Linked DNA regions of Homo sapiens. The protein of the gene in region 1 interacts with the protein of each later gene in a pairwise test. Each region holds a gene or a part of one and is shown in the gene's direction. Other genes may lie near its edges. The genes, in order: TLCD4, NDUFA3, STATH and CYP4F22.

Region 1 (7,317 bases):
CAAGTAGCTGGGATTACAAGAATGCGCCACCACACCCAGATAATTTTGTATTTTTAGTAGAGATGGGGTTTCGCCATTTTGGCCACATTGGTTTCTTTTCTTTTCTTTTCTTTTCTTTTTTGAGATGGAATCTTGCTCTGTCGCCCAGGCTGGAGTGTGGTGGTGTGATCTCGGCTCATTGCAACCTCTGCCTCCTGGGTTCAAGCAATTCTCTGCCTCAGCCTCTGAGTAGCTGGGATTACAGGTGCCCGCCGCCATGCCTGGCTAATTTTTGTATTTTTAGTAGAGACGGGGTTTCACTATCTTGGCCAGGCTGGTCTTGAACTCCTGACCTGATGATCCACGCTCCTCAGCCTCCCAAAGTGCTGGGATTACAGGGGTGAGCCACTGCGCCTGGCTGGCCAGGCTGGTTTCAAACCCCTGACCTCAGGTGATCCACCTGCCTCAGCCTCCCAAAGTGCTGGGATTACAGGCGTGAGCCACTGCAATTTGCACTTCCTAATGACAATAGTGAACATCTTTTTATATGCTTAGTTTTCATCTATATATATTTTCTGATGAGGTTTTTGTTATGCTCTTTTACCAGTGTTTTAATTGGGTTGTTTTCTTATTGTTGACTTTTAAGAATTCTTTGTGTACTTTGTATACATGTACTTTACCATACATGTATATTTTAAATATTTTTTCCTAGTGTGTGGTTGTCTTTTCTTTAACAGTGTCTTTCGCAGAGCAAGTTTTAATTTTAACGAAGTCCAACTTAACTAACTTTTTCTTCCATGGATGACACTTTTGGTGTTGTATCTAAAATAGCACCACCAGATGCAAGATCATACAGGTTTTTTTCCTTTTTTCTTATGGAAGTTTTATAGTTTTGCATTTTACATTTAGGTCTATGATCCATTTTGAGTTAATTTTTGTGTAAGGTGTGAGATCTCTGCTTAACTTCATTTTTCTCGATGTTGATATACAATTTTGCACACCTTGTTGAAAAGACTTTTTTTCTCCACTGAATTACCTTTATGCTTTTGTCACAAATCAGTTGAGTATATTTGTGTGGGTCTATTTCTGAGCTCTCTTTTCTCTTCCATTGGTTTATTGATCTTTCACTAACACCATGCTGACTTGATTACTGTCGCTTTATAGTTAAGTCTTGGAAATGGGTAGTGTGAGTCCTCCAACTTTGTTCTTTTTCAGCATTGCGTATGCTATTCTAGGCCCTTTGCTCCTCCTTCACTGAATTTTAAAATTTAAAAACTAAAATAAAAATGGTTAATCCTCAGAGATGCACTATAAATGTGATGTTTCTTTAATTCATTTTTCAGGTGGTTCTTTGAAGCTCTGAAGTATCCCAAGTTTTCTAAAGCTATCGTTATCAATGGAATACTCATGACAGTAGTATTCTTCATCGTGCGGATTGCCTCAATGCTTCCTCATTATGGCTTCATGTATTCCGTGTATGGAACAGAACCCTACATAAGGCTTGGAGTTTTAATCCAGTTATCCTGGGTCATTAGTTGTGTTGTTTTGGATGTGATGAATGTCATGTGGATGATCAAAATTTCAAAAGGTTGCATCAAAGTCATCTCTCACATCAGACAAGAGAAAGCCAAAAATAGTCTTCAGAATGGAAAACTTGATTAAAAGAGTGCTACCGATAAGCAAACTTCATTACTACCCAGCATATCTGCTGATAGGATGAATTCTTGGCATGTTCTTGTGTACCTTTCTTAATTATAATTGTTATTCAGGATTTCAGTGTCATTTTTTTTAAACCTTAGAAAAGAGAAGGCCGGGCACGGTGGCTCATGCCTGTAATCCCAGCACTTTGGGAGGCCAAGGTGGGTCGATCACTGAGGTCAGGAGTTCGAGACTAGCTTGGCCAACATGGTGAAACCTCATCTCTACTAAAAATACAAAAAAAAGTAGCTGGGCGTGGTGGTTGGCGCCTGTAATCCCAGCTACTCGGGAGGCTGAGGCAGGAGAATCGCTTGAACCCGAGAGACGGAGGTTGCAGTGAGCTGATATTGTGCCACTGCACTCCAGCCTGGGCGACAGAGCAAGACTCTGTCTCAAAAAAAAAAAAAAGAGAGAAACTAAAATTAAAATTTAGTTTTCATCCCAAGATGTCTTTTCTGCCTTTCTTTTGCCTTATTTACAAGCATGGATAAAAATCTTAAAGGTTTAAATAAAAATGATCAATATAATGGTGAATCTTTTGAGAAATCTCTTAACTGCATTGGTATTTTTTCTCTGTGAAAGATGACTATGATAATCTGGTACAAATGGTTTTATGTCACCAATTTTGCTGCAAGAATGGGAACTGCTTTTAAATCTGTAAATAGCTCTTAACATTTGTTGTATGCACTCTTTTCTTACTATGGCTGTCAACACTTGTGTAGGGTTTAATTTCTAAATTGTTGGCATGTTCTTTTTCTCAGGCTATTCAGAAGTAACAACATTTTTCATTTCAGACATGCAATCACCTATTAATGATGAAATATTTTACCACTTTGGGAATATTTAATTAGTTTAGTCATGGAGAATACTTCCCACATTTTAAGATTTTTTCAAATATCACTGTCATTTCTATTTTAGCATTTTATCAAATTATTGCTTTTTTATTTTATAATAAGGCTTAAGACAGATTATAGACCTCCTTAAGAGATGAGTTTCTTCTTCTAAAAATGCATGTTGATAGAGGACTATTTAGGCTAATCGGAGGAATCATTAAGAAAGAAAGTTTTAACACTGTTTATCCCTATCTGCTTTCCTTGCACTTTTTCTGTGAAAAATATTTTCTGTTTGCAAAATCTTCCCTGAGTTCTGAACCCAGCACCATCAGTACCAAAGTCTTATGCAATATGTATTTATTATGCTCCTGAAATAGGCCTCTTCTTGATGAGACCCAAACTATTACAAAAATATCAGTATTCATATTTTACTCACAATTCATACCCGTGCTTACTTAGTTGGCATTTTAGTGCTTTGAATTTCTATCTTAAAGCACAGAAAAAAAAAGGTAATTTAATCCAAGTATTCTATCATCAAAATTATTGTCTGATTATATGAAGATAAATGACTGGCGACTCTGGTTGTGTGTGTATGTGTTTTGCTTTTACTTTAATTCTTGCAATCCAAATATAGAATTATATATTTATCTATTATTGCCTTTATTCTTTAAGCACTTGAGTTTAATGATTATTCTTACCTGAGAAAGGAAGAAATTTAATTCTACCAGTGATGAATACTTGAAATTAATTGAACTCATACCAAAAGATGTAATCCAGTTTCTCAGTTTGAAGGAGAACGTTTGACTCACTTTCATTGTTCATGCTAGCTGAATATAATCAAGACTTTTGATTTGATTTGCTTTTATTATTCAATGCAGATAGAGCCTGATAAGTTTTAGAACATTTAAAGAAGATTGAAATCTCAGTCAGTAACTAAATGATAAAATGAGATTGATTGGCTTATACTAGGTACATTTATTTTTGAAAGAATTAATGTAAAATAATAGTTATTTTTAAAGCAGCTAATATTACACTGATAATTTGTTGCTAAATTTAGTGCTGTCCACATCATAGGTGCTTAAATATGTACTGGTTAACTAGAGGGGGGTAGGAAAGCAAGCGGTTTTATCTTGTTCTTACCTTTTTGCAGGAAAAGTGGCTTTAAAAAAATTTATATAATAAAACTATTTTGGAAATTCATTCTTTTAGAAAGAGACCTTGAGATAAATATTTTTTGACTCTGGATATTTCTATAGTTCTGAACACAGATTTTAAACCCACTATCAAAATGAAAACAATATAAAGCTATATTAGTGAGTCTCCATGTAGCAGTTTGTTTTTATAGTTACTGTTTCATGCTTAAAACTTCATTCTTACTTTCATTAATGTTACCCTTCACTGGTATAGCCACTCACTAAATAAGTATATTTAAAACATCAAAATTTTGAACTAAAGTTTGTGATTCTCTTATTCAGCAATCCTTATCTTATGCTGGCTGCATGAGTTAATTCAACATCCAGATTAAATATCCTGAAGTAGGTTCTATATATTTCCTCATACAACAGACATGGAATGGAAATGCCACTAGAAACTGCCCTGCTACTTTTAAGTCTGACCTTTGCAGGAGGTACACTTTGCTGTTCTATGATTGTATTCACCTACCTAAAATACAAATGAAGACAGAACATATCATTTACTGCACGATGAATTTTTCATTTATTAAATGAAAAACGTTTGCTAGACATTTTAAATATTAAGTATTTTGACTACACGGATTAATTTAAATGATTCTATCAGGCATTCTGATATTTAACAACTCTATTAAAATATTTATAGAAAAATAAAAGCAAATTGATATAAATTTTTGAGCAATTCTATTTTTGTAGAAAAAAGATAACCTGTAATTATAAAGATGTTTTTTGAATGTGTAGTATCCTAGAAAATAAAAGTTCTTGTGAAACTTAAAAAATGAATGAAAACCAACTAATAGCATGCAAGATCATAGATCCTGCATTAAATTTTTATTTGTGAAAATTTGAAAATTATGAGCTATAACTTATAAAGTTTGCCTTCTTATGTCTAAAATCTTTTAAAGGATTATTTGCATTTATGTAAAACTGGAAATGAAGTTATATATGAGTGCAAAGAAATTGACTTCTGCTCAAATATGTGTTGATACCCTACAGTAAATTGAATTAAATTTTTATCCCAACTGTTTGATTTTATTATTTCATGGACTAGCCTTACGTTAAGTGAAATACTATTTATGTTGTTACCACCCCTAAGAGTGACTCTGATATATTATGGATGACCCAGGACGGTCTTAAAGGTCTAGTTTTAAAAACTGCCTAGTTTGTAAGTATTTGAATCCAGTTCTTTTCTAAATTTTAATAATTTGACTCAAAATTTTTGCTACAGGGTCAACTTTTAAATTGTATATTTCCTCTGAGGCACACTGGGCATTTGGAGAATGGTTCTTCACTGGTGTAGAGAGCCAGGTTTACTGTTGGTTGCACCATCTGTTATCAGGCATGCAGAAACATTTTTCTTCTGGAGAAACAGAGGGGAAGGTGTTGTTACAGTGTACATGTTTCCTCTGTGTCGTTTTTAAGGGAAATAAACATGTTCCAAAAGATGCTGTTAAAATAAATATTTGAACACGTTTTCTGTTTCTAGGTTGCTCTTAATTCCAAACATTTAAATAAATGTGCATTTGAATAGCTTTAGGTGGTTTAGTCTATTAGCTGAAATGGAAAAGTTCATGTATTGACATCATCAATAATACTTCATAAAGGTTTATGTATTTTTATGTGTTTGGATTCCATAAGAAGTTGAACTTAGATAATTTTATCAAGAGTAGCACAGTGTTTCTCAGGTGCGAGCCAGCATACAGCGAGACCCTTCATGTGTCTCTGGATGCACATATATCTTCCCAACCTTAAACACAGCTCATTGAAATACATTAAAGCTACTGAAAGTGAGTTCTGATGCAAAACACATGTGAGGTGTGTAGGAACAATGAAAAGCTAGAGGATCTGGAGTTAGAGGAGGCATTGAGAGTGCTTTTCCCTTAAACGCCGTGATAGTCCTCCCTTGATCTAGAAGTATTCTCTTTGAATCCTTCCATCTCTTCCTCCTGGTACACCAGATGACTTCATCAGCATCTCCCTCTTTTATGCTAACACCTTTCGCTGTCAACTTTTGAGACCTCCCCATGTATCTATAAGCTTCCCAGTCTCTTATGGCAAATTTAAAAGTTTACAAATAGGTTCTCTCATTGAAAAAAAGCATTGTAGTAAAGTTTAAAGTGGAGCTCAGACAAATCATGACTTATTAAGAGACTACAGGAAGCCATTCAGCATTTAATAATAACTGTTTACAACATGAGGCAAAGCTAATAATGTTATGGTTTTATTAAGAGATCTGTCATCTCTGTTTTTCTTAAACTGGTTTAACAGTCAGAGCTTTGTAATGTGTTTCAGCTGAAGATTTATTATAGGCTTGTAAATTATCTAAATGTTCTTTTTAGACCCCATGACAGGAGCACAGAGGAACTGAGATAACTCTGTGTTATGAGAGGGTGGATGCTGGCTTGTGCCAAAATTATTTTAGAGTCCTGCTCTTTAGGGAAAACTTTGCTATGGTAATGTTTCTTTGAAAACAAATTTACCAGCAACTGCGTTACTTGGTGTTTTCCAAAGTACAACATCCAAGGCTTGAACCTTACCCGTTTCTAGGCCAGACTAGGCCAGCCTCTAGTTTTGATAATAATTCATACCTTTATTGGAATATATTTTGGATAGCAGTGAAGAATTGAAAGCAGCTCCTAAAGATTGGTTTGTTTGCTTTGAAAATGTTTACACTTATTCACTCTAAGCAGTGGACCATTTTGATATCAGGCCCTATACATAAGACCAAAACCAGAAATATTTCTAAATCTCAAAGATTTATAAGTACAGTACCTCTGGCTGAAAACTCGTTAAACATCTTTGGATATTTTTTCTTTATATCTTTATGTAATTATTTCTGTAATTAAGTGTACATTAGGGTTATTTGCTACTTAACAAGCCTAAAGGTATAGCTGTATATAGAATGTGCTCTGTGTTTTTCTGTTTCCTGCTTGGTTTGTTTCTGGTATGACTATGTCTACTTTTTATTTAAGGAATTTTGTGTAGATAATACTCTCACTAACTTGTAAATAGGATAAGTTATGAGATTTTTTGGTATTAGAATTTGTAATAATAATGACTTTTAGATTTTATTTGAAAAAGCTACTTGGAAAGCAGTAAATAGAACTATAGTGATATATATAGATACATAGATATATACTTTTTTCTGAGAATGTATAATATATAATTGTCAAAGATTTTTGGAAGTCTTTCAAAATATACTTAATACCATTTTGAGAACATACCTTCTAATTTATTTCCATAAGGCTGAAGAACTTTTATTTACAAAATGTAAGACTAGATAATGTATGAATCAGTGTTACTAGGACTTATCAGTACTTAAAATAGCAACTTGGCATTCTTTATTTTGTTTCCTGGTTGTTTTATTTGGAGGGATAATAAATGTCTAAGTTATTTCCATTAAAATTTTGAAATGTTTGTATACTTTATGTGTGCCATTTTAAAGTATATGCAAGTTCTAAGCAATAATCTGCATGTTATACAAGGTTGACATATTTTGTCCTGAAATTTTTAGTTAACATTTCAAGAATGATAAAATGAACACCCTGTAAATTACCCTTCTCCCCCTCCCCTCCATGAAAACCTTGGGATTTTCTTGTGCTAGAACACTACCACAA
Region 2 (7,817 bases), on another chromosome or scaffold:
AAGACCCTGTGTTTCTTTTTTTTTAAACTATAAAAGTATTCAAAAAACTATAGGAAAATATATTTGTCTTGGGGTAAGGAAGGCTTCTTAAAATATAAAATAAAAAGTTGTATGGAAGATTAATTAATTTGACCACTTCAAATTTCTTAAGTTGTGTATGCTAAAAGACAAAACTAGAGGACAAATGATAGTACTGGCAGATATCACTTATTCACAAATCACACAAATTAAGAGTACAGGAAGGCTGTTGGGTCCGGTGGCTCACAGCTGTAATCCCAGCACTTTGGGAGGCCAAGGTGGGTGCATCACCTGAGGTCAGGAGTTCAAGACCAGCCTGACCAACATGGTAAAATCCCATCTCTACTAAAAACAGAAAAATTAGCCAGGCGTGGTAGTGCTAGCTTGTAGTTCCAGCTGTTTGGGATGCTGAGTAGGAGAATTACTTGAACCCTAGAGTCGGAGGCTGCAGTTAGCTGAGATCATGCCACTGCACTCCAGCCTGGGCAACAGAGTGAGAACTCCATGGTGGCATGCACTTTGGGAGGCTGAGGCTGGAGGATTGTCTGAGCCCAGGAATTCAAAGCTGCAGTGAGCTATGATAGAGCCACCGTACTCCAGCCCGGGTGACACAATGAGACCCCATCTCTAAAAATGAATAAAAATAAGGGTCGGGTGAGGGGGCTCATGTTTGTAATCCCAACACTTTGGGAGGCTGAGGCAGAGGGATCACCTGAGGTCAGGAGTTCCAGACCAGCCTGACCAACATGGGGAAACCCTGTCTCTACTAAAAATACAAAAATTATCCGGGCATTGTGGTGTGTGCCTGTAGTCCCAGCTACTCAGGAGGCTGAGGCAGGAGAATCCCTTGAACCCAGGAGGTGGTTGCAGTGAGCCGAGATTGCACCACTGCACTCCGGCCTGGGCGACAGAGAGAAACTGGTCTCAAAATAAATAAATAAATAAATAAAATAAATAGGTAGAGATAGCTATAGCGACACTGAAATATCTCCAAAAGAGTTTTTTTTGTTTGTTTGTTTGTTTTTGAAGTGGAGTCTTGCACTGTCACCCAGGCTGGAGTGCAGTGGCGCGATCTCAGCTTACTGCAACCTCTGCCTCCTGGGTTCAAGCGATTCTCTTGCCTCAGCCTCCTGAGTAGCTGGGATTACAGGTGCGTCCCACCACACCCGGCTAATTTTTTTTTTTTTTTTTTTTTTTTAGTAGAGACGGGGTTTCACCACATTAGCCAGGATGATCTCGATCTGACCTTGTGATCCGCCCGCCTCTGCCTCCCAAAGTGCTGGGATTACAGACGTTGGCCATTGCGCCCAGCCCAAGATCCTATTTCTTAAGCCCTGTACTGTGCCAGGCTCAGGGTTTTGCACATGTGATTTGATGAGATCTCACAGCGGCCCATTTTACAGAGAAGGAAATGGAGTCTTAGCAAGCTGTGACTTGTTCTAGGTCATATGGTCACATATAAATGAATACGATGGTGAAACTGAGGTCCTAGCTTAGGCCTCTGCCTCAGAAGTTCCTGGTCTTCAGTACTCACCTATAATGGCCACTAAGGGGAATGAGAAAAGAAGGAAGGAATGGAGGGAGGGAGGAAAATAAGGATATCTGGGATGGGATTGGGCACCAAAATAAAATCTGAGTAATTGGAAAAGGGGTGTCAGCAACAAAAGGAGAGTGGATGGGGTGGCTACTCACCAGACGGAGTGATGTCTGTGTGACACAGAGGCCCTGTAGGAGGTTGAGGGACTAGTTTCTTTTTCCTTTTTTTTTTTTTGTCTGAGGCAGAGTCTCACTCTGTCGCCCAGGCTGGAGTGTAGTGGTGTGATCTCAGCTCACTGCAACCTCTGCCTCCCAGGTTCAAGTGATTCTCCTGCCTCAGCCTCCGTAGTAGCTGGGACTACAAGTGCCCGCCACCACACCAGGCTAATCTTTGTATTTTTAGTAGAGAGGGGTTTCGCCATGTTGGTCAGGCTGGTCTTGAACTCCTGTCCTCAGGTGATCCACCCGCCTCGGCCTCCCAAAGTGCTGGGCCTCGGCTCCCACAGGCATGAGCCGCTGCGCCCAACAGCGAGTTCTTTTCAAAACCCTTTGTGGCCAGCCCCATCTCATTGGTAACCCAGGAATCTGAGTTCCCAGCTCCTATCTCCTCTGGGAAATGAGAATCTTATCCCTCCCTCCTCCTGTCTCAGTAGGCAGAAATTTGGACATCCATTGCCCACCTACCGAAGAAGTCTGAACGCAGACCCCTCTGGCCTGGGCAACCAAGAGTTCAGGCCCTTGAACTCCACCTTTCCAGGGAACAATGATCGTAGAGTTTCTCCTCTCACGAGTTCAGGAATCTGGGTCCCCATTTCCCTCTTCTCTCAGGAGCTAAGAGCCCTGTTCCCAGCCCCCTTTTCCCAGGGAATCAGGAGTCCTGGCTTCCATCCCCCTCCCATATAAGAATCTGGGAGTCCTCCCTGTCTCCTGACCTCTTCCTGCCTCAAGAACCAGAGATACCTGTCCCCACCTCCTTCCTCTTTCGGGAATCTGTGTTCTCTTGCTTTAGGACCCAGGGGTCTGGGCCCCAGCCCTGTTCTTTATTTGAACCTAGAATCCCAAACCTGCTGCCTGGTCCCCCTGCAGGGTGTCTGGGTCTCCATTGCCTCTCTCTCTGCCCCCAACCCCAGCCAGGAACCCAGGGAGAAGAAAGGGGTGACTCACAGAGGGTCAGCAGCTGGAGGATCAGCACCAGGGCCATGGTGGGCAGATACCCGCTAGAGCTGGAGCCAGGGCTTGGTCGCACCCTCTCCCCTCCCAGGAAATGAGGCAACATCAGAAAACCAGACCCAGATCCTCATTTACGGAAGAGAGTATCGAGGTGGGGGCCTGTGGGTGACTGTGTCATAGCCCTATGGCACTGTGGAAAAATTAGCAGGGGGTTCAGTCATAACCTGTGGTGTTCATTTATTTAACTCTAGAAACAAATACTAGTCAGGAGGTGGAGGCAGGAGGATCGCTTGAGCCCAAGAGTTCAAGAGCAGCCTGGGCAACAGAGCGAGACCCTGTCTAAAAAATAAATAAATAAATTGTGCCACTGCACTCCAGCCTGGGTGATAGAGTGAGACCATGTCTTTAAATATAGATAGACAGATAGAAAGATATCTGTCTGTTTTAAAAATAAGAACCTATTATGTGCCAGACTCTTGCTGTCATTGATTGACAGATAGATAAAAATTTGCACCTATTATGTGCCAGGCCCTTGCTGTGATTGAAAGATAGATAGATGGATGGATGGATAGATAGATAGATAGATAGATAGATAGATAGATAAAAATTAGCACCTGTTAAGTGCCAGGCCCTTGCTGTGATTGATTGATGGATAGATAAAAATTAACACCAATTATGTGCCAGGCCCTTGCTGTGATTAATTGATCGATTGATAGATTGGTTGACAGAGAAAAATTAGCACCTATTATGTGCCAGGCTCTTGGTGTGATACTGTGTTAGATAGATAGATAGATAAAAATTAGCCCCTCTAGGCCGGGCGCGGTTGTTCACGCCTGTAATCCCAGCACTTTGGGAGGCCAAGGCGGGTGGATCACCTGAGGTCGGGAAGTTCGAGACCAGCCTGACCAACATGGAGAAACCCCCGTCTCTCCTAAAAAAGAAAAATTAGCCGGCTGTGGAGGCGCGCGCCTGTAATCCCAGCTATTCAGGAGGCTGAGGCAGGAGAATCGCTTGAACTCGGGAGTCGGAGGTTGCTGTGAGCCGAGATCGCGCCATTGCACTCCAGCCTGGGCGACAGAGCTAGACTCAATCTCAGAAGAAAAAAAAAAAAATTAGAACCTATTACGTGCCAGACCCTCGCTGTGCCATGTTGGCAGGCACAGAGGGAACTCAGACTCCGTTACTGCTCTCAAGCAGCAGCTACCAGTCCGACTGAAAGACCAAGACCAGGTCAGTTTCTTTTTTTTTGAGACGGAGTCTCGCTCTGTCGCCCAGGCTGGAGTGCAGTGGTGTGATCTCGGCTCACTGCAAGCTCCGCCTCCCGGGTTCACGCCATTCTCCTGCCTTAGCCTCCCCAGTAGCTGGGACTACGGGCGCCCACCACCACGCCCGGCTAATTTGTGTTGTATTTTTAAGTAGAGACAGGGTTTCACCATGTTAGCCAGGATGGTCTAGATCTCCTGACCTCGTGATCCGCCCGCCTCGGCCTCCCAAAGTGCTGGGATTACAGGCGTGAGCCACCGCGCCTGGCCCAGACCAGGTCAGTTTCTTAAGTGATCTGAGCTATAATGGCGGTAACAGAGCACTGTGAGAGCCCGCAGAAAGCTCCTAACCCATCTGGGATGAGACCTAGCGCTTCCAGGACGAGCCGATGTTGAGCTGAGACCTCGAAGGACAGGTTAGTCATTCACCTTCTCCCGGGCTCAGTTTCTTCGTCTGTAAAATGGGCTTTCATACATAAACTATAAAATGGGGACTATTTTGTTCCGCCTTAGGTGGGTCGCAGCAGGAGGACTAGTCACTCCGGAGCGACTTCTAGGCTGAGACTAAGGAGATTCCACGCAGGTCCGCAAAGTCAGGCTTGCGCTTGCTCCTGACACCACTTCCTTTACCTCCACGGCTCCATCTTTGTTCTGCGCGAGTGCGCACGCGCAGGCTCCGAAAGCGGGCCGTCGCACAGAGGGACCACAACTCCCAGAGTGCTCCGCGTCCTTGCTTTCGCCTCTACTTGTGCTCCAGGGCGCACGCGCAGCCCTGGGAGCGGGTTCTCGCGCATAGGGACCACAACTCCCAGGGTGCTCCGCGTCCTCGCCGCTGTCGCCGCCGCGGAGACAAAGATGGCTGCGAGTAAGTGCAGGTGCCGGTGGCGCACGGGGCTCGGGTAGTTCTGGGAACCTCTGGGCGGTCCTGGGACTGAGGTGCGGCAGGGCAGGGGTGGAAGCGATGGGGTCCGTGCTGGAGGGGAACGCAGAAGTCACGAGGGGGCTCCTCCAGGGCAGGGGTGGCACGAGAGGGTTAGAGGTCACCGGGGGCAGCTACTTGCAGGGGTGACGCTTCTTGCCACCCCTTCAGGAGTCGGCGCCTTCCTCAAGAATGCCTGGGACAAGGAGCCAGTGCTGGTCGTGTCCTTCGTCGTCGGGGGCCTCGGTGCGTGAGTGCTCCAGGCGCAAACTTGCATCGTCCACCCCCGTCCCCCTACATCCCTCCATCTTGTACCCCTAAAGCCCTATCGCCGCCCTCGGGTCCCCTCTAGTGTGTCTGCACCCCCACGGCATCCCCTTATCTATCCCCATACCCATTATAACCTCTCCACCATCGCCCCCCGCGTTCCTCTCCACCTACCCAATACGCTCTTAACCCCTCTAAATGAGACGTTCTCAACCCTGCTTATGCCTTAACACCTGAGCACCAAAAAAAAGTCCAGATCCTCCTCCTCCTTTTCATCTTTCCTCTCCCCCATTCTGAATTGAGTTGGCTTGGGTGGAGGTGGGACTGGGGAATCTGTGTCTTGTGAAAATCCCCGTATGATCCCAATGTGCCTTGCTGATTGAAAATCTCTGCCCTCTGCCCTGGAACTGCCCTACTCACACTTTAATTAGCACCGGAGTTCCTGCAGGGATGGGGGCGGGGGATTGTTAAAATGTAGCTTTTTTTTTTGCGATGGAGTCTCACTCTCACCCAGGCTGAAGTGCAGTGGCGCGATCCCGGCTCACTGCAACCTCGGCCTCCTGGGTTCAAGGGATTCTCCTGCCTCAGCCTCCCGAGTAGCTGGGATTACAGGCGCCCAGCTAATTTTTTGTTTTTGTTTTTGAGACTGAGTCTCGCTCTGTCGCCCAGGCTGGAGTGCAGTGGCGCGATCTCGGTTCAGTGCAAGCCCCGCCTTCCGGGTTCACGCCATTCTCCTGCCTCAGCCTCCCGAGTAGCTGGGACTACAGGCGCCCGCCCCCATGCCCGGCTAATTTTTTGTATGTTCAATAGAGACGGGGTTTCACCGTGTTAGCCAGGATGGTCTCGATCTCCTAACCTCGTGATCCTCCCAACTCGGTCTCCCAAAGTGCTGGGATTACAGGCGTGAGCCACCGCGCCCGGCCAGCTTTTTTTTTTTTTTTTTTTTGAGATGGCGTCTCGCTCTGTCTTCCAGGCTACAGTGCAATGGTTTGATCATGGCTCACTGCAACCTCCGCCTCTAGGGTTCAAGTGATTCTCCTGCCTCCGCCTCCCAAGTAGCTGGGATTACAGGCGAGCACCACCACGCCCGGCTAATTTTTGTATTTTTAGTAGAGACAAGGTTTCACCATGTTGGCCAGGCTGGTCTTGAACTCCTGACCGCAAGTGATCTGCCTTCCCAAAGTGCTGGGATTACAGGGGTGAGCCACTGCGCCCGGCCAAACTGTAGGTTCTGATTCTGTAGGTCTGGGGTGGGGCATGGGATTCTGCATTTTTGAAGAGTTCCCAGGTCTTGTCAGTACTGCTGGTCCACCAGCCAGGCACTAGGTTAAGGTTCTGAACACTTATTCAGTATGGCAGCCACCAGCCACAACTGGCCACTGAGCATTTGAAGTGGTGCTGGTATGAATTGAGGTGGTATAAGACACTGGATTTCAAAAACTTAGTATAACAGAGTGTGTAAACTACCAATAATCTTTTGTTGATTACATGGCGAAGTGATGTTTTGGATGTACTATGGTTTTTTTTGTTTGTTTGTTTTTGTTTTTTTGAGACGGAGTTTCGCTTTTGTCCAGGCTAGAGTGCAATGGCCTGATCTCGGCTCACTGCAACCTCCGCCTCCCGGGTTCAAGCGATTCTCCTGTCTCAGCCTCCTTAGTAGCTGGGATTACAGGCGCATGCCACTACACCTGGCTGTTTTTGTATTTTCAGTAGAGACGGGGTTTCATCATATTGGTCAGGCTGGTCTCGAACTCCTGACCTCAGGTGATCCACCCGTCTCAGCCTCCTAAAGTCCTGGGATTATAGGCATGAGCCACCTCGCCCATCCAAGTATGTTTCTTAAAATTTGTTTCATCTGTATCTCTTATTTTTACTGTAGCTACTAGAAGATATAAAATTATATACCTGGCTCTTACCATCTGTCAGACAGCACTGGCCTAGAACATTCCTTTTATGAACTGTACCCCATCCCCCAGGACTCCTGGCTCCCACCCTAAATGGACTGTGGTCAGTGACTGTTGTTTGTGCAACCCTTTCTCCTCCAGTTTGTAAGGCTTTTTTTTTTTTTTTTTTTTTGGTGATGGAGTCTCTCTCTGTTGCCCAGGCTGGAGTGCAATGGCACAATCTGGGCTCACTGCAACCTCTGCCTCCCAGGCTCAAGGGATTCTTCTGCCTCAGCCTCCTGAGTAGCTGGGATTACAGGCTCCTGCCACCACGCCCGGCTAATTTTCGTATCTTTAGTAGAGATGGGGTTTCATCATGTTGTCCAGGCTGGTCGCGAACTCCTGACCTCAGGTGATCCGCCCACATTGGCCGCCCAAAGTGCTGGGATTACAGGCTTGAGCCACTGTGCCCGGCCAAATTTGTAACAGTCTTGATTTCTCCAGAACAGTCCCATGACACTACCCCCAGGATGCTCCATGATGACCCTACACTCAAACGTGCTCATTCCATGACCAACCCCACTGCTGCCTCCTCCAGGCCCCACGTATCTGTGAGTGTTAGGCTCCAACCCCTACCTCCACTTAACCCCCCAAAAAAGAGTTTTAAACCCTCCTGTCTATAAGTAGGGATCCCAAGGTACCAAGGATCCTCCTGGACGTGCTGGCCCTCCCTGCTGCCCTCCCCCTGCGCACTTTATCTTC
Region 3 (7,964 bases), on another chromosome or scaffold:
GTCCTGCGAAGTCACATATTTCTCATTTGGTCTGTCATCTTATATCTAACCAACATATGGACTTCAAGCGCAGCTAGATTATTGCACGTATTTACTCTAACATTTGATTTGCTCCTGGATTCCTTTGTCACAGCACATATGCTAAGCCTCCAAAGTCCTCACTTTTCTTATCTCAGTCCCTGCAGACCAGAAGATAACCCCCATGTCACTCCATAGCTTTAGGCAAGAATTCAGAACACAACAATGTTCTCCATGAGTTTGTCAGCAATTACTTTCCTTCATTTATACATTGAGTGACACTCGATGGCCTGACAAGGCCCTCTTTAGATACTGCACATGCAGCAAGGTCTAAGAGAGATGAAAGTTGGCCTTCAGGCAGTTTACACTGTAGTTGGGAGATAGAAACAACAAGTGAAAAAATAATACATAGTATCTCAAGTAATCATAAGTGTGCTAAAGATGAAGAAGGCAGGACTAAGGCAAAGAGGCAATTTAAAATAGGATGGTCAAGAAAAGCTTCTCTGGCACAGTGGCATTTTAGAAAACATATGAAGTGCTTATGTTCATAAGTTAGCATGAAAAAAAAAATCCAGCAGAAGAAATAGCAGGGCTGCATTCTACTGTGGTAGAAATACATTTATTGCGTTTGGGAAAACTCTAATGAAAACAGCATGAATAGAGAAGGAAAGATGTGGATTAAAATAAACTATATTACAGAAAAGAGGTGAGGAGATGATTGAAGCGCCATAGGTCAAAGATAGCCTTTGGATTGAGATAAATGCCATTGGATCAGGCATTGATCTGATTTATATTTTGGAAGGGAGGCAAGGGTTGAAGCATAGATCCCTTACTTTGGCATTACAGAACCCTGCTGGCCCTTAATAGTTTTACATCCTTTTGTTCTACCTGTTCATTCTTTTTTTCCATATTCTCCTAACCTACAACTTAATATTTATGATTTAGTACATACTTTCAATAACTCAAACAACTCCAGTGAAGTCTGAATTTGATTAATTATATTTGCTAAAATCTCAATCCTACTAATTGTTAAATCTTCTTACACTGCATCTCTACCAAGAAAACGCAAATGTACAAAGAAAAGAATTTATTTTATGTTTTATAAATGTGGCATACAATGTTGCTAAGCAAATAATATTCTTGTATTTAGTTTTATAGCTCTCACCCTTTCCCTTCAATAAAATGTCCAAATGTATCATTAAGTTTTCTGAAATATCCAACTCATCTTACCTTGTAGTCAGTTCCAGAAAACAATCTACTCTGAATTAAAAACTGAGCCCATTTGATCTAACCCATTTAAGCTCTCTACTTTCACTTGTTTATAAATTAATCTATACTTGACCAGATTTGTAACTCTCTGCAACATCTTGATCATTGACATGATTCTAATGTTTTTCCAGAGATATATTCCTGTTGTTCCTGGTTTTGTATTTCCTCCTTTATACTTGGAGAATTTTAAAAATTAAGATGTTCTTTTTCATGAAGATTATGATGATGAAAATTATAATAATGATAGAATCTAATATTTGCATTTGAGTCATTTTAATTTACAATGTGATTTTTATATACTCTCCTTTAAGTTTCACGTATTACTGTAACATTTTATAAATAAGAAAATTTTAGTTTAAAGACATAAAGCAAACTAAGCAACCTATAAGGTCACTGCAACATGGTAATTAACATTTCCTTCCTGATGTTTCATCCTCTTGGCTTCCACAACATACAAACAGCCGAGAAATACCTCTTCTGCTATTCTTTTCCATCACAGATTTTTTTCATAGACTTTCTATTTTCTCTTACACATTACATCAGTGCTCAGCAGGATATCTGTCCTCAGCCTATTCTCTTCTGACTCTACACATCTTGATTGTATAAGCTGTAATAATCTCATAGTTTGATTACAATCAATAAGATGATAAGTGCCCAATCTGCAACTCCATTGTTGACCTTCTTCTCCCAATTTTAGACTCATGTTTTCCTGGGTTTCTCTGTCTTAGCCTTTATCCTTGTCTGATTCACAAATTATACTGTAAACTCCTTAAGAACAAGAGTAAAGCTTCTCATGTCATGTCTCCAGAATAAACAACATTCTATCTATCTAGTAGATTATCATATGTTGTTCAGCATTTGTCAATCATATATGTCATTTTAGTAATTCAAACAGGAACATAATATAACATTTTTAGTTAAATAAATAAATATCATGGATATTGGTCATAAATGGTTTCATGTTTCCATCATAAGAGAATTGCAGAATAAGGAGAAGGAGGAGCAGCAACTGGAGCAGCAGGAAGACAAGGAGGATGAAGAGGAAGAGGAGAAGGAGACGGCAGTAAAGAAGATAGAGAAGCAAGATTGAGGAGAGCCCAGCATAAACATCACTACAAATACCCATTCATGGGTTGTATCCTTAAGCAAAAATTGTATTGCCTCACCTGTGATAAAGCAGTAGTTCTTTGTTGATGTTTCCTTTGTAACGAAAGGTCATGACATTTTCAAAGAGAACAGTGTTTGGCATAGAGGATAAGATATCTGTTTTCTTTAATTATAAAATATGAAGTCATGTTCTGGTTCATCAGTCTTCTAAATTGGTCTGCTCTTCCTGGAGGGTGGGACCATAACTAACACGAGAAGGTCACTCCTTTGTTTCTAGTCTGCTATCCTTGTTTGACCTATCATACATAATCCCCACACTTCCTAACTTGGGGAAGCAGAAAATGATGGGTGGACTAATGCCTACATGTTGGTATTCCAACATAACATGTAGATGAGTTAAGTTTAACTGTAATTTTAAAGTGTGTATATTAAGATGTATCAATATTTCTTACCATGTAGTTTGCTGTTTGTTAGTGCCTTTGGGCTATTAGTTTGCTTTATGTTCACTAGAACATGAATACCTTAGATCTACTAGAACAGTACCTAGTATTGTTGGATAAATGAAGTGGTGAAGAAAACCAGAGGTAAGAAAGGAGAAGAGAGGGAGAAGAAAGAAAGAAGAAAAGAAGAAAATCATTTGACTTTCCCCAAGTAATCGAAGCAGTTTATTTTTAAAATCAGATATAGTTCAGTAGTTACTGAACCATGGGCCAGGCACAATGGCTCATGACTGCAATCCCAGCACTACTTGGAGGCTAAGGCAGAAGGATTTTTGTGGTCAAAAGTTCAAGACCAGCATGGGCAACATAGCAAGACCAAGTCTCCACCAAAAACAATTTAAATTAAATTAACCAAGAGTGATAACACATGTCTGTAGTCCCAGCTAAACATGAGGCTGAGGTTGTAGGACCACTTGAGCCCAGGAGTTCCAGGCATCTGTGAACTATGATCTCACCAATGCACTCAAGACTGTGCTATGCAGCAAGACCCCATCTCTGGAAAAATAAAATAGTTACTGAACCCTATGTAACTTTTTTCCACTCAGAATGTAAAGAGATTGTGTTTGTTTTACACATGAGAAGAAACTTTGTATCTATAATGCTTATAAATCTCATGACAAAAGAATAAGAATAATATCTATCTAATTTAATTTGAATTATTTATTTGCCTTAAGAAATGATTTATATTTTCTTGTATATTACCCAGAGAGTAATCATAATTTCCAGTAAGGCTGTTCCAATACAGCATAAAAATTTACCTAATAAATACTTCCTTAAAAAATCTGATACAAAATTAAACCACAAATTATCTTTACTGGTTAAAGCCTAAGGATAACTAATGCATTCAAGAGACAAATATGTGGTTGTTTTTTTTTTTATGTTTTTGTGGAGATACGGGTCTCACTATGTTGCCTAGGCTATTCTTGAACTTCTATGCTCAAGCAATCCTCCTGCCTCGGCCTCCCAAAGTGCTGGGATTACAGACATGAGCCACTGAGACCAGCCTTGTTTCAAACTTCACAGTACCCAAAGAATCACCTGGAGATAATGTTAAAATGCAAACGCCTTAGGACAACCCCAAGATTCTGACTCAGCAAGTTTGCGAAGGTGGACTAAGAATTTACATTTCCACAGGCTCCAGCTGATGCTGTCTGTGATGTTCCCATATGGCACACTCTGAGGAACAATGCACTAGGCTGTATAACTTACCTCAACTTTATATATAAGTTTTTGATATTCGTTTCTTAGTACATTGAGTTATCCAACCAGCAGTGAGTAGGGTAATTTTTACACAAATTTTCCTAGGAATGTAATGAAAACATTTTTTCCTTCACTCTAGTGTAATCATGTCAACACATGGCTGCTATGGAAAAATATGTAGCCTTAAAAACTCCAGGAAATTAAATTGAATTTCCAAATACATATATTCAGTCATATGTGAGATATGTATCAGTGAGCACTTAGAGTCATTTCACCATAAATATAATAATTTTTTATCATATAGTACCCAAAAGATTACTGAATTTGGCAAATGTTTACGTTCACTTTGTAACTTAAAATATTCTAAAGTCAATAGAAGATGGTAAAAGTATGAGATAAATAATGATTTGAAGAAAAACTCTTGAAGTATATGAAGACTGTAATTTTATTATGCCAGTTACCACGAGTTATCAGAGAACATGTAAAATCTTGATAACATGGTAAGTATTATTTGTGTCATAGAGTTGTTCCACCTTGGACACATACTTGTGGAAACATCTTTATCACTGCAATTATTTCTATGCCTGGTTTCCTCCAGCATGCTTTTCTGTCATCTGACTCACTCAGCGCTAGACTAACAGTGGGATTAACATGCAGTGGGTACAGTTGTTTCCTGGTTACTTTGTCTTCACAATCATCTATTGCAAAATCACTTTGTTACGGTTATTTTTATCATTTGTAGAGACAGATTTTGGGCATTACTTTTAGTTTCCATAATGTGATCTCATAATTGCCATTATTTAACAAAAACAAATGGGGGACTTCAGAGTGTTTAAATACATTGGCCCTCTAGGGTAGCACATCATCTCTTGAAGCTTCACTTCAACTTCACTACTTCTGTAGTCTCATCTTGAGTAAAAGGTAATATGTTCATGTATAATCGAATATGTTGTCTTAATCTAGAGTGTTGCTTCCTAAAATCTTTTGAAAACTAATTATAAAAATGTGTATTTATGTAATGATAATTTCTCATAAAGAAACAATTGAGAGAAATGATGACCTTCTTAGGATCTGAAGGTAAGTTGAGAATCTGAATAACTATACATTGAAATCAGCAATCATCATGCAAAGTAAATAATGTGGAATATGGAGACATATTCCAACTTCTCTCCTGATGGAACTTCTGAAAAGCTTTTTATTTCCTTGTCTACGTACTGGCATCTACTCTGCTACTTACTACTTTTACCTTTATTCGAAGTTCATATTTTAAGAAAATAGCATACGTTCTCTTTTTTGCAAATGTATATATTGTTTCACAAGTTTAACTTTTAAAAATTTACTTTTTTCCCATAAGTAAACATTTCTCACTACCTTTTCATTGACCTTTCCATCATTTTAAACAGTTATGTCATTCTGCATAATAAAAAATGTTGTATAACAGTCATGCTTTACTGCCTTACTGTTTTATATTACTTAAGTTGTTTTCATTCAGTTGTGATATGGCAGAAAACAAAGATTTTACTATTTCATATTTTTATTATTTTTCATTGGGGAAATATTTTTTTAAAACCATGACATATATATTTATATATCTATGTCTATATATCCATCTTTCAGTTTATCAAGGTTAGTAAAACAAAACTACTCTTCTATGAGCATTTTTTGATTCCATACTTTCAATAAAATTTACAGGTATAAAATACACTAAAGTTTTTATGCTTTTTGCATCATAAAATGACTGATGGGTAGGTTTATCTATCAGGTGATAGAAAAACCCCAAAGTACATATTATTTTTACACTTACTCTAATACCAGAAATTTCCTTTTTTTTTTTTTTTTTTTTTTAATTTGAGACAGAGTTTCGCTCTTGTTGCCCAGGCTGGAGTGCAATGGTGCAATCTCGGCTCACCGCAACCTCCACCTCCCGGGCTCAAGTGATTCTCCTGCCTCAGCTTCCTAAGTAGCTGGGATTATAGGCACTCACCACCATGCCCAGCTAAATTTTTATTATTATTATTTTTAGTAGAGACGGGGTTTCTCCATGTTGGTCAGGCTGGTCTTGAACTCCTGACCACAGGTGATCTGCCCACCTTGGCCTTCCAAAGTGCTGTGATTACAGGCATGAGCCACCACACCCGGCCAGAAATTTCAGTTTGAATAACTGAGGCAAATCAGTGAATAAGTAACAAAGCAAATGCCATAAATCATGAGTTCTGCTTTATGTTTTGGAGATTTGGGGTTATTAATAACAGTAATTTTTTTTATAATTAGGTAAAAAATATTCTTGTAATGTTTTATCACAAGTTATTGGTAAAAGAGATTAAAATAATGAAGACCATTACCTTTATATGAATTACTCTATAGTTTTCAATAAACAGGTAAAAATGTCATTTATTTGTAACTCTTGTGGCAATTATGTGTTTCACTGAAAATGTCTTTATTTAGATGTTTATAATTTACAAATAAATAATCTAACGTTTTTTGTTTAATAACAAAGGAACTGGGTTAACTGGCTTATACTGTTTATGATAACATATCACAGTCCCAGATAAGGTTAATTTTGTTGAATGAGATTATTTAAAATATTAAGTCATCTTCACCAATTCAACTTCTCAGAGGAGGTACGAATATTTTCTCTGTGACTTCTTATCAGTTTGATTGTTCTCTACCCAGTATCATTAATGTTCTAATCTGAAGGTGACCCCATTTTTGCAACTCTCAAGACAGAAATCTGGCTCATTTTCAGTAACATTATAAAGCGATTGCCCATTGCTGGTCATTCTAACATCCAAACATCTCTTTACACTGTACCTTAAATATCATCCCTAATGTCATTATTTAAGGCGCCCCATAATATCCAGTTCTATCTTCCCTACATTTTGAACTGTTCCAGTTTTATCTTCTGATAAACTGCTCCAGTTTTATCTTCCCTACATTTTGAACTGTTTGCACTTTCAATATGGTATCCTCCCTCTTTTTCATTTTCTTGCAGTCACCCAACACCTCTTTACTCATCCTGCATAATCCAACTCAAGCTTTACTTTCTTCTTTACCTTCATACCCCTATTCTCTTGGTCTGTGTAAGGTGTTGATTTGTGTGTTACTCTAATGCCTTAGCATTTCCATATCAATACACTCACTTTTACTTATCAGTGTCTCCAACAAGTCTCCAAGTTTCATGATGTCAGGCAATGGGTTTTAATTGTCTTTCTATCTGGAGTGTGTCTCCCAGTGCTTTGGAGCGTAGTATAATCAATAAACTTTTGATGGGCGAATGCAAGAAAAAATGTGATACTGAATTTCCACATATGTTTTCAGAGAACCCAGCCAACTATGAAGTTCCTTGTCTTTGCCTTCATCTTGGCTCTCATGGTTTCCATGATTGTAAGTATATCAGGACATTTGAAGAATATGTTCTCAGTACCTATCCCAAGAGTCTCTCTATTCCTTGTGTTCTGGCATATATTGGTGTTTACTTGAATACAGCTTTATATGTTTAAATGTTTCCATATGAACTTTTTTTTGTACTAACCTACATAAGCTATATAAGGATTTAGAATAAATAGTCATTATTCATCTACAGACACTAAAGTATATTTAGCTTAGTGTGAAATAAAAGAAAGTTTTACTGAACTTCTTAAATATGTGGAACTGAGAGCTTCTAAAAGTATCTTTAAACATGTAATGCTCTAGACAATCTGAAGTTAGAAATCTCAGGAATGAACTAGGTGCACTTGAGTGGAATTCAAGTATTAGAAGATGTCAAAGTAGAAATTTTCAAGTCATTCCTTGCAAAAACTAACTTAAAATTAGTATACAATTATTTAGCACACACTTTCTAAAATAAAGCTGCTTATTTTTAACTATAAA
Region 4 (7,317 bases), on another chromosome or scaffold:
CAAAGTGCTGAGATTACAGGCATGATTACAGGCATGAGCCACCGCGCCCAGCACTATATTAATTTTTTTTAACAAAAAAATTAAAAAAAAATTAGCTGAGCATGGTGGCAGGCGCCTGTAGTCCCAGCTACTCAGGATGCTGAGGTGGGAGGATCACTCAAGCCCAGGACGGGGAGGTTGCAGTGAGCCAAGATCACACCACTGCACTCCAGCCTGAAGGACACAGCAAGACCATGTCTAAAAAACAAAACAAACAAACAACAACAACAACAAAACAACTTAGAAGTCCCCTCTCAGCTCCAGCCTTCTGGGGTCTGGCACTTTGGGGGAATATGTGAGTCTCTGGGGTAAGCCAGCCCTCTGATGTTGAGGAAGCCAAGGTGGCACCATGAATCAGTGGGGACGGGGGCAGGCTGCCTTGACTACAGGCTTGGAGTGAAAAGGAGGGCTGGGATTTGGGGTGATGGGGCCAGCGTTGGGGTGCTCTTCCATCAGGCTCCTGGCTGGTCCCAGCCCCTGCAGTTCAAGAAGAGGCATGTATCTCGTACCTGGCGTCGGCCTGGGTCCGTGCCCTCCACTCCTTCTTGGGAGCCCACACACCTTGTATAACAAGTCCTCAGTGGGTGAACGGCTGGGCCAACCTGACAAACCAGCGCGACCTGGGCGTGGGCCGGGACACGGAGCCAGTCGCTGGCTTTCACCACCACCAGATAATGCGGGCCCTGGCAGGGCAGGGCCACCTCTACCAAGGCGGGCCTGCTGGATGAGATCGGGGGCCGGTGTAGATAGGGAGTGGACATGCCAGCCGCCCACAACATTCTGAGGGTGTCACCTTTGAATTGCTCTCACTTCTATCAAATAGCAATAATAGGAGTAGTCATCATGGCTAACATTTTGTGAGCTACGTGACAAGGCCTTTCCATGCCTCATTTCACTGAGCCGTCCCAAAAACCTTAGGGGGTAGGTCCTGTTATTATCAACCCATTTCACAGATTGGCAAAGGGAGGCTGATGGCAGGGACTGGGTTCACCCAAGGCTGCTAACCTAGGGAATAGGAGAGCTGAGATTTGAACCCAGGCCTGTTGAAGTCAAAAGTGAACATTAAATTAAATTAAATTAATTTTAGTTTTTGAGATAGAGTCTCACTCTGTCCCCCAGGCTGGAGTGCAGTGGCAAGATTTTGGCTCATTGCAACCTCTGCCTCAGCCTCCCAAGTAGCTGGGGCTACAGGCATCCACCACCATGCCCAGCTATTTCTTTTTTTCTTGGTAGAGACAGGGTTTCATCATGTTGCCCAGGTTGGTCTTAAATTCCTGACCTCAAGTGATCCTCCCTCCTCAGCCTCCCAAAGTGCTGGGATTACAGGCATGAGCCACCATGCCTGGCCTGATTTTTTTGTTTTTTAGTAGAGACGGAGTCTCACTATGTTGCACAGGCTGGTCTCAAATTCCTTGGTTCAAGTGATCCTCCCATCTTGGCCTCCCAAAGTGCTGGGATTACGGGCATGAGCCACTTCACCTGGCTGATACCTTTCCTCCATTATCTAAACTCCATAGTTTACATTAGGATTCACTCTTTGTGTCATGCAGTAAACTAATGAATTTTTATAATTGATTCAATTTTTTTTGAATGGGTGACATGTGCTCATGGTATAGGAAACCAAAACGACTGGAAAAGTGGATAGTAAACTTAAGTTTCCCTTCCACCCCTGTCCCGAGTTCTTTCAGGCCCTTTCCAGAGGCTGCCACCATTTTTCCTGGGTCCTCAAAGCTTTTCTCTCTCTCTCTCTCTCTCTTTTTTGTATTACCATTTATTGGTGACAAACACTAAGTTTTACTCGCATTCCATGAGGAGAAAAACTCCAGTGTAAACGATGAATGGAGGCAGTACTTAACTCGCAGGGGTACCAGGCTTTCCATATGGACCACACACAGAGCCTCAGTGCACACACTTCTTTTTTCATTTTTATTTTTTTGAGACGGAATCTCGCTTTGTGACCCAGGCTGGAGTGCAGTGGCATGTTCTCGGCTCACTGCAACCTCTGCCTCCCGAGTTCAAGCGATTCTCCTGCCTCAGCCTCCTGAGTAGCTGGGACTACAGGCGAATGCTGCCACGCCCTGCTAATTTTTTGTATATATATATATTTTTTTTTTTTTTTTTTTTTGAGACAGAGTCTCACTCTGTCACCGAGGCTGGAGTGCAGTGGCGCGATCTCGGCTCACTGCAAACTCCGCCTCCCGGGTTCACGCCATTCTTCAGCCTCAGCCTCCCGAGTAGCTGGGACTACAGGCGCCCGCCACCTCGCCCGGCTAATTTTTTTTATTTTTAGTAGAGACGGGGTTTCACCGTGTTAGCTAGGATGGTCTCGATCTCCTGACCTCGTGATCTGCCCGCCTCGGCCTCCCAAAGTGCTGGGATTACAAGCGTGAGCCACCACGCCCAGCCTAATTTTTTTGTATTTTAGTAGAGATGGTGTTTCACCGTGTTGTCCAGGCTGGTTGCGAACTCCTGAGCTCAGGCAATCCGCACCCCCCTCGGTCTCCCAAAGTGCTGGGATTACAGGCGTGAGCCACCGCACCCGGCCCAGTGCACACACTTCTGTGTATAGTAACACAACATCAAAAGCAACACAACTGTATAAAGAAACATAGGTCATACTTTTCAGCCCTAATCGAGATGTAATTAATAGTATCGAGCACTCTGGAAAATCAGTCTGCAGTTTTATGTGAACTATGTGGAGATCATATCCTGTAGTGTAGTGAAAGCTAAGTCCTCAAGAGCCGTATGTATAGACACATGATTTTCTTAAAGAATATTTAAAATGGAGATCAAAGTTCATTTGTTTAAGTCCTGTTTGCATTAACAAAAATAAAAATAAAATAAAAATGGAAGCAAATGATCATCTAAAGTTTAAAATTCCTAAATTGTCCAATTTATACAACTGTGGGAGACTTATTCAAGGTTTTTGAAAGTCCAGGACTGTTTCAGCTGAACCATAGGGCACGTAATTTGCATCACTGAAATGGTGCTGGGTTAGTCAATGAAATAAAAATGTCTAACTACATACACGTGGATATGATCTTTGTCGGTTAGATTATTGATAAAGTCAGTCTCAGAAAAGTTTCCAAACTGTGCGATATAATTAGATACAGTTGAGAAACTCTCAAATGAAAATTTTATATAGTGTCGTCGGGCACGGTGGCTCATGCCAGTAATCCCAGCACTTTGGGAGGCCGAGGCGGGTGGATCACGAGGTCAGGAGTTCAAGACCAGCCTGGCCAAGATGGTGAAACCCCGTCTCTATTAAAAGTACAAAAACTAGCTGGGTGTGGTGGCCCAGCTACTCGGGAGGCTGAGGCAGACAATTGCTTGAACCTGGGAGGCAGAAGTTGCAGGGAGCCAAGACTGTGCCGTTGCACTCCAGCCTGGGTGACAGAGTGAGACTTTGTCTTGAAAGAAAGAAAGAAAGAAAAAGAAAGAAAGAAAGAAGGAAGGAAGGCAGGAAGGAGGAAAATTTTATATAGTGTCATACCAATAAAAAGGAAATAATGAAACTAAGAATACAGATCACTGTTGGAAGAGAAAGCAGTGGTGATGGTGTGGGCACTGCAGGAAGTGGTGGGGCCGTGGCACACTAGAAGTTAGGTCATGCTGAATAGGAAGCATTTGACTTTCTCTGGTGCTTTTAGCTCTGGGGCTGGTTGAAGGCCTCTCTCTGGTGTGGCTGTCCAGGGTTTGTCCCAACTAAGCCAGCTTGAGAAGGGGTCATGCTTTCAGTTTCTTCTTTCACACGGGAAAAAAAAGACCAAACAGGAAGGTGCCCAGGGCGTGGATCTGCTGGTGCCCCAGGAGAGCCAGCTGGCTGGGCAGCCCTTCTTCCCCAAAGGCAGCTGGTATTGCGTAGGGACAGCCAGGTCACCGAGTGGCCGTCACAACAAACCCCAGCACAGTCCAGCCCGGCCACAGCCACCTCCCCTGTTGTGTTCCCTGCTGCTGCCCACATCCTTTACCCACCGTCTCTCGGCCCACTAGAGGTATCAGAAATTCCAAATTTTCAAAGCAGTTTTAATATTTTCAGTGTATATGTTGGGATTTTATAATGGTTCATGGCCAGAAAAGGTTCAGCACCTCCCACACACAGACATTGATCCATTTCCTGTTCTTGGCATCTCTGTACTTTGTTGGTCCAACTCAGACAGCAACTTTAAGGTGTTCAGTGCAGCTGGCCAGGCACGGTGGCTCACGCTTGCAATCCCAGCACTTTGGGAGGCCGAGGTGGATGGTTCGCCTGAGGTCAGGAGTTCAAGACCAGCCTGGCCAATATGGTGACACCCCGTCTCTACTAAAAAGTACAAAAATTAGCCAGGTGTGGTGGCGCATGCCGGTAATCTTAGCTACCCAGGAGGCTGAGGCAGGAGAATTGCTGGAACCCGGGAGGCAAAGGCTGCAGTGAGCTGAGATAGCACCACTGTACTCCAGCCTGGGCAACAGAGCGAGACTCTGTCTTTTTTTTATTTTCTTTTGAGATGGAGTCTCGCCCTGTCACCCAGGCTGGAGGGCAGTGGCGCGATCTCGGCTCACTGCAAGCTCTGCCTCCTGGGTTCACGCCATTCTCCTGCCTCAGCCTCCTGAGTAGCTGGGACTACAGGCGCCCGCCACCACGTCCGGCTAATTTTTTGTATTTTTAGTAGAGATGGGGTTTCACCATGTTAGCCAGGATGGTCTTGATCTCCTGACCTCGTGATCTGCCCGCCTCAGCCTCCCAAAGTGCTGGGATTACAGGCATGAGTCACCGCGCCCGGTCGAGACTCGGTCTTGAAAAATAAAAAAGAAAAAGAAAAAGATGTTTAGTGCAGCCATATCATAGCAGGACTCAACATCCTTGCCAATACTATGTGTTAGATATAAGAGAATAAGTACATTCTATGTCTTTGTACTTTAACCAAGATATTTGTACTAGACATGCTCACAGGCACATAGTACATTCTACGTCCTTGTACTTTAACCAAGATATCTGTGCTGGATGTGCTCACAGGCATGTCCCAGCTCGCAGCCCATGCCCTTTCCTTATTTGGAAATATTATTGCTTTTCTAAGTCCTTTTGTAAGCAACTTCCTCTTTTCCTTTGCTCTCTATTGCCTTTACCTATTTAGGAAAGTTTTAAATTATTAGCCAGTCAGGTTTAATTTAGATTGTGAGGTCTTGCTTCAGCCAATGGAGACAGGACACAGTAGCAAGGACAAACTGCATAAGGGATAAAAATTGCTTCCCTCCTTTGTTCAGGTGTGCTCTCGCCATTATTCCATCTGCAAGGAGCACCCTTTATGCAGAAAGTAAAATTGCCTTGCTGAGAAAACTTATTATCTGAATGCTGATTTTTACTTGCAGTACCGAGGAACAAGCATTCTATTTCTGAATAAACATTTTACTTATAACACTATGGCTGATCAGAGGCGGCTGAGAGGAGCAATGGATAAGAGATACAAATTCATTCTTGTTGTTTTTGGGGAAGTCTTTGTATTCAACCTGGAATCCCTGGACTCTGGAAAGATAGTCCACTTGCTCAGAGGATCTCATGAGAGGTCCATGGGGTACGTGGCCTGAAGAGATGTTATTCTTTTTTTTTTTTTTTTTTTGAGACGGAGTCTGTTGCCAGGCTGGAGTGCAGTGGCACGATCTTGGCTCACTGCAACCTCTGACTACCTGGTTCAAGCGATTCTCCTGCCTCAGCCTCCCAAGCAACTGGGATTACAGGCACGCATGGCTGATTTTTTGTATTATCAGTAGAGAAGGGGTTTTGCCATGTTGGCCAGGCTGGTCTTGAACTCCTGACCTCAGGCAATCCGCCCACCTCAGCCTCCCAAAGTGCTGGGATTACAAGTGTGAGCCACCGTGCCCGACCTCAAATGATAATTCTAGGGTTTCCCCACAGTGGCTGCACTATTTTTTTTTGTGGGTGCCAGACAGAAGTGTTCTTGTTTGAGGGACAGGAGGACCCCAGCTGTGGAAAGTATAGGACTTCCCCAATGTACCTTTCATGGTGGTCTTCCCATGGGCATCTGGTGGACCTCTTGTCATGATTCCCATTTTGTAGTGGAGAAACTGGAGGCTTCCAGAGAGTGTCCCAACTGGGGACTCACAACATGTGGTCCTGCCTGGGGGCAGAGCCAGGGGTTGTTTGTCCTGGGAAGGACTTCAGCCCATGTCTGGTAGGGGGACGGGGAGGTGAAGCGGACACAGGGCTCCACAACTCCCCTCTCTCACCCTCCCCAAGCACCCATCTCCCCATGTACCCAGCCACCTGGAGCAGGGATCCCTCTCTAGGGCTGGCACCTTCTCTTATCCCAATTCTTTCCCATTTCATTCATTCCAGAAGACATTTCCTTTGTTGAGATTTCAGCTGGGATTTTCCTGGGTGCGAGTTGGGGGCTCTAGCTGTGATTTCACTCAGAAGTCTTCCAGCTCTCTTTAAGGCTTACTGGGAAGATGGAGTGAATGATAGTGAAAATCATCACACATAACAGGCACTCAATGATTCTTTGGAGAGTGATCTAGGGGAGGTGGCTGATTGTGGTGCAAAGGAGTGGACCATCAGGGCAGAGCTGGGGTTGGAGGATGAGGAGCTGGTGTGGGCACAGCTGAGGAAAGGAATGTGGATGGAGGGAACAGAATGTGCAAAGGCTCTGAGACGGGAAGTTGCTTGGCCTGTGGAAGGAGTGGCCTGGAGCAGCCTGAGGTGAGCAAGTGAGGAGGAGGGTGGTGGGAGACAGGGCTAGAGGCATCAACAGGGGTAAGCCATGTAGGTTGTTGTGGTCCATGACAAAAAGTCTAAATTTAGCTGGATGAGGTGACTCATGCCTAGAATCCCAGCACTTTGGAAAGCTGAGGTGGGAGGATTGTCTGAGACCAGGAGTTCAAGACCAGCCTGGACAACATAGCCAGACCCCATCTCTACCAAGAATTTAAAAATTAGCTGGGCATGGTGGTGCATGCCTGTAGTCCCAGCTACTGGGGAAGCTGAGGTAGGAGGATCTCTGGAGCTCAAGAGTTTGTGGCTGCAGTGAGCTATGATTGCACCACTGCACTTCTGCCTGGGTGACACAGCAAGACCCTGCCTCTAAAAGAAAAACCGTGATAAAAGGCCGGGCACGGTGGCTCACGCCTGTAATCCCAGCACTTTGGGAGGCCGAGGCGGGCGGAACACGAGGTCAGGAGATCGAGACCATCCTGGCTAACACGGTGAAACCCCATCTCTACCAAAAATACAAAAAAAAAAAAAAATTACCTGGGCGTGGTGGCAGGCGCCTGTAATCCCAG

The links.
Region 2: the proteins of TLCD4 (region 1) and NDUFA3 interact in binary tests that used the Homo sapiens proteins (3 or more experiments, as listed by UniProt).
Region 3: the proteins of TLCD4 (region 1) and STATH interact in binary tests that used the Homo sapiens proteins (3 or more experiments, as listed by UniProt).
Region 4: the proteins of TLCD4 (region 1) and CYP4F22 interact in binary tests that used the Homo sapiens proteins (3 or more experiments, as listed by UniProt).

Annotation. Positions count from the first base shown.
Region 1 is NC_000001.11:95,190,228-95,197,544, forward strand, and holds part of TLCD4 (TLC domain-containing protein 4), read left to right. Parts: intron 1-1,322; coding exon 1,323-1,641; 3' UTR 1,642-7,317.
Region 2 is NC_000019.10:54,098,038-54,105,854, forward strand, and holds the start of NDUFA3 (NADH dehydrogenase [ubiquinone] 1 alpha subcomplex subunit 3), read left to right. Parts: upstream 1-4,817; 5' UTR 4,818-4,841; coding exon 4,842-4,851; intron 4,852-5,076; coding exon 5,077-5,151; intron 5,152-7,817. Other genes in the region: OSCAR (osteoclast-associated immunoglobulin-like receptor isoform 1 precursor), read right to left, coding at 1,553-1,564, 1,711-1,743, 2,719-2,755. UniProt on the Homo sapiens protein: Accessory subunit of the mitochondrial membrane respiratory chain NADH dehydrogenase (Complex I), that is believed not to be involved in catalysis. Complex I functions in the transfer of electrons from NADH to the respiratory chain.
Region 3 is NC_000004.12:69,991,011-69,998,974, forward strand, and holds the start of STATH (statherin isoform a precursor), read left to right. Parts: upstream 1-4,955; 5' UTR 4,956-5,015; intron 5,016-7,412; 5' UTR 7,413-7,427; coding exon 7,428-7,478; intron 7,479-7,964. UniProt on the Homo sapiens protein: Salivary protein that stabilizes saliva supersaturated with calcium salts by inhibiting the precipitation of calcium phosphate salts. It also modulates hydroxyapatite crystal formation on the tooth surface.
Region 4 is NC_000019.10:15,511,219-15,518,535, forward strand, and holds part of CYP4F22 (ultra-long-chain fatty acid omega-hydroxylase), read left to right. Parts: intron 1-7,317. UniProt on the Homo sapiens protein: A cytochrome P450 monooxygenase involved in epidermal ceramide biosynthesis. Hydroxylates the terminal carbon (omega-hydroxylation) of ultra-long-chain fatty acyls (C28-C36) prior to ceramide synthesis.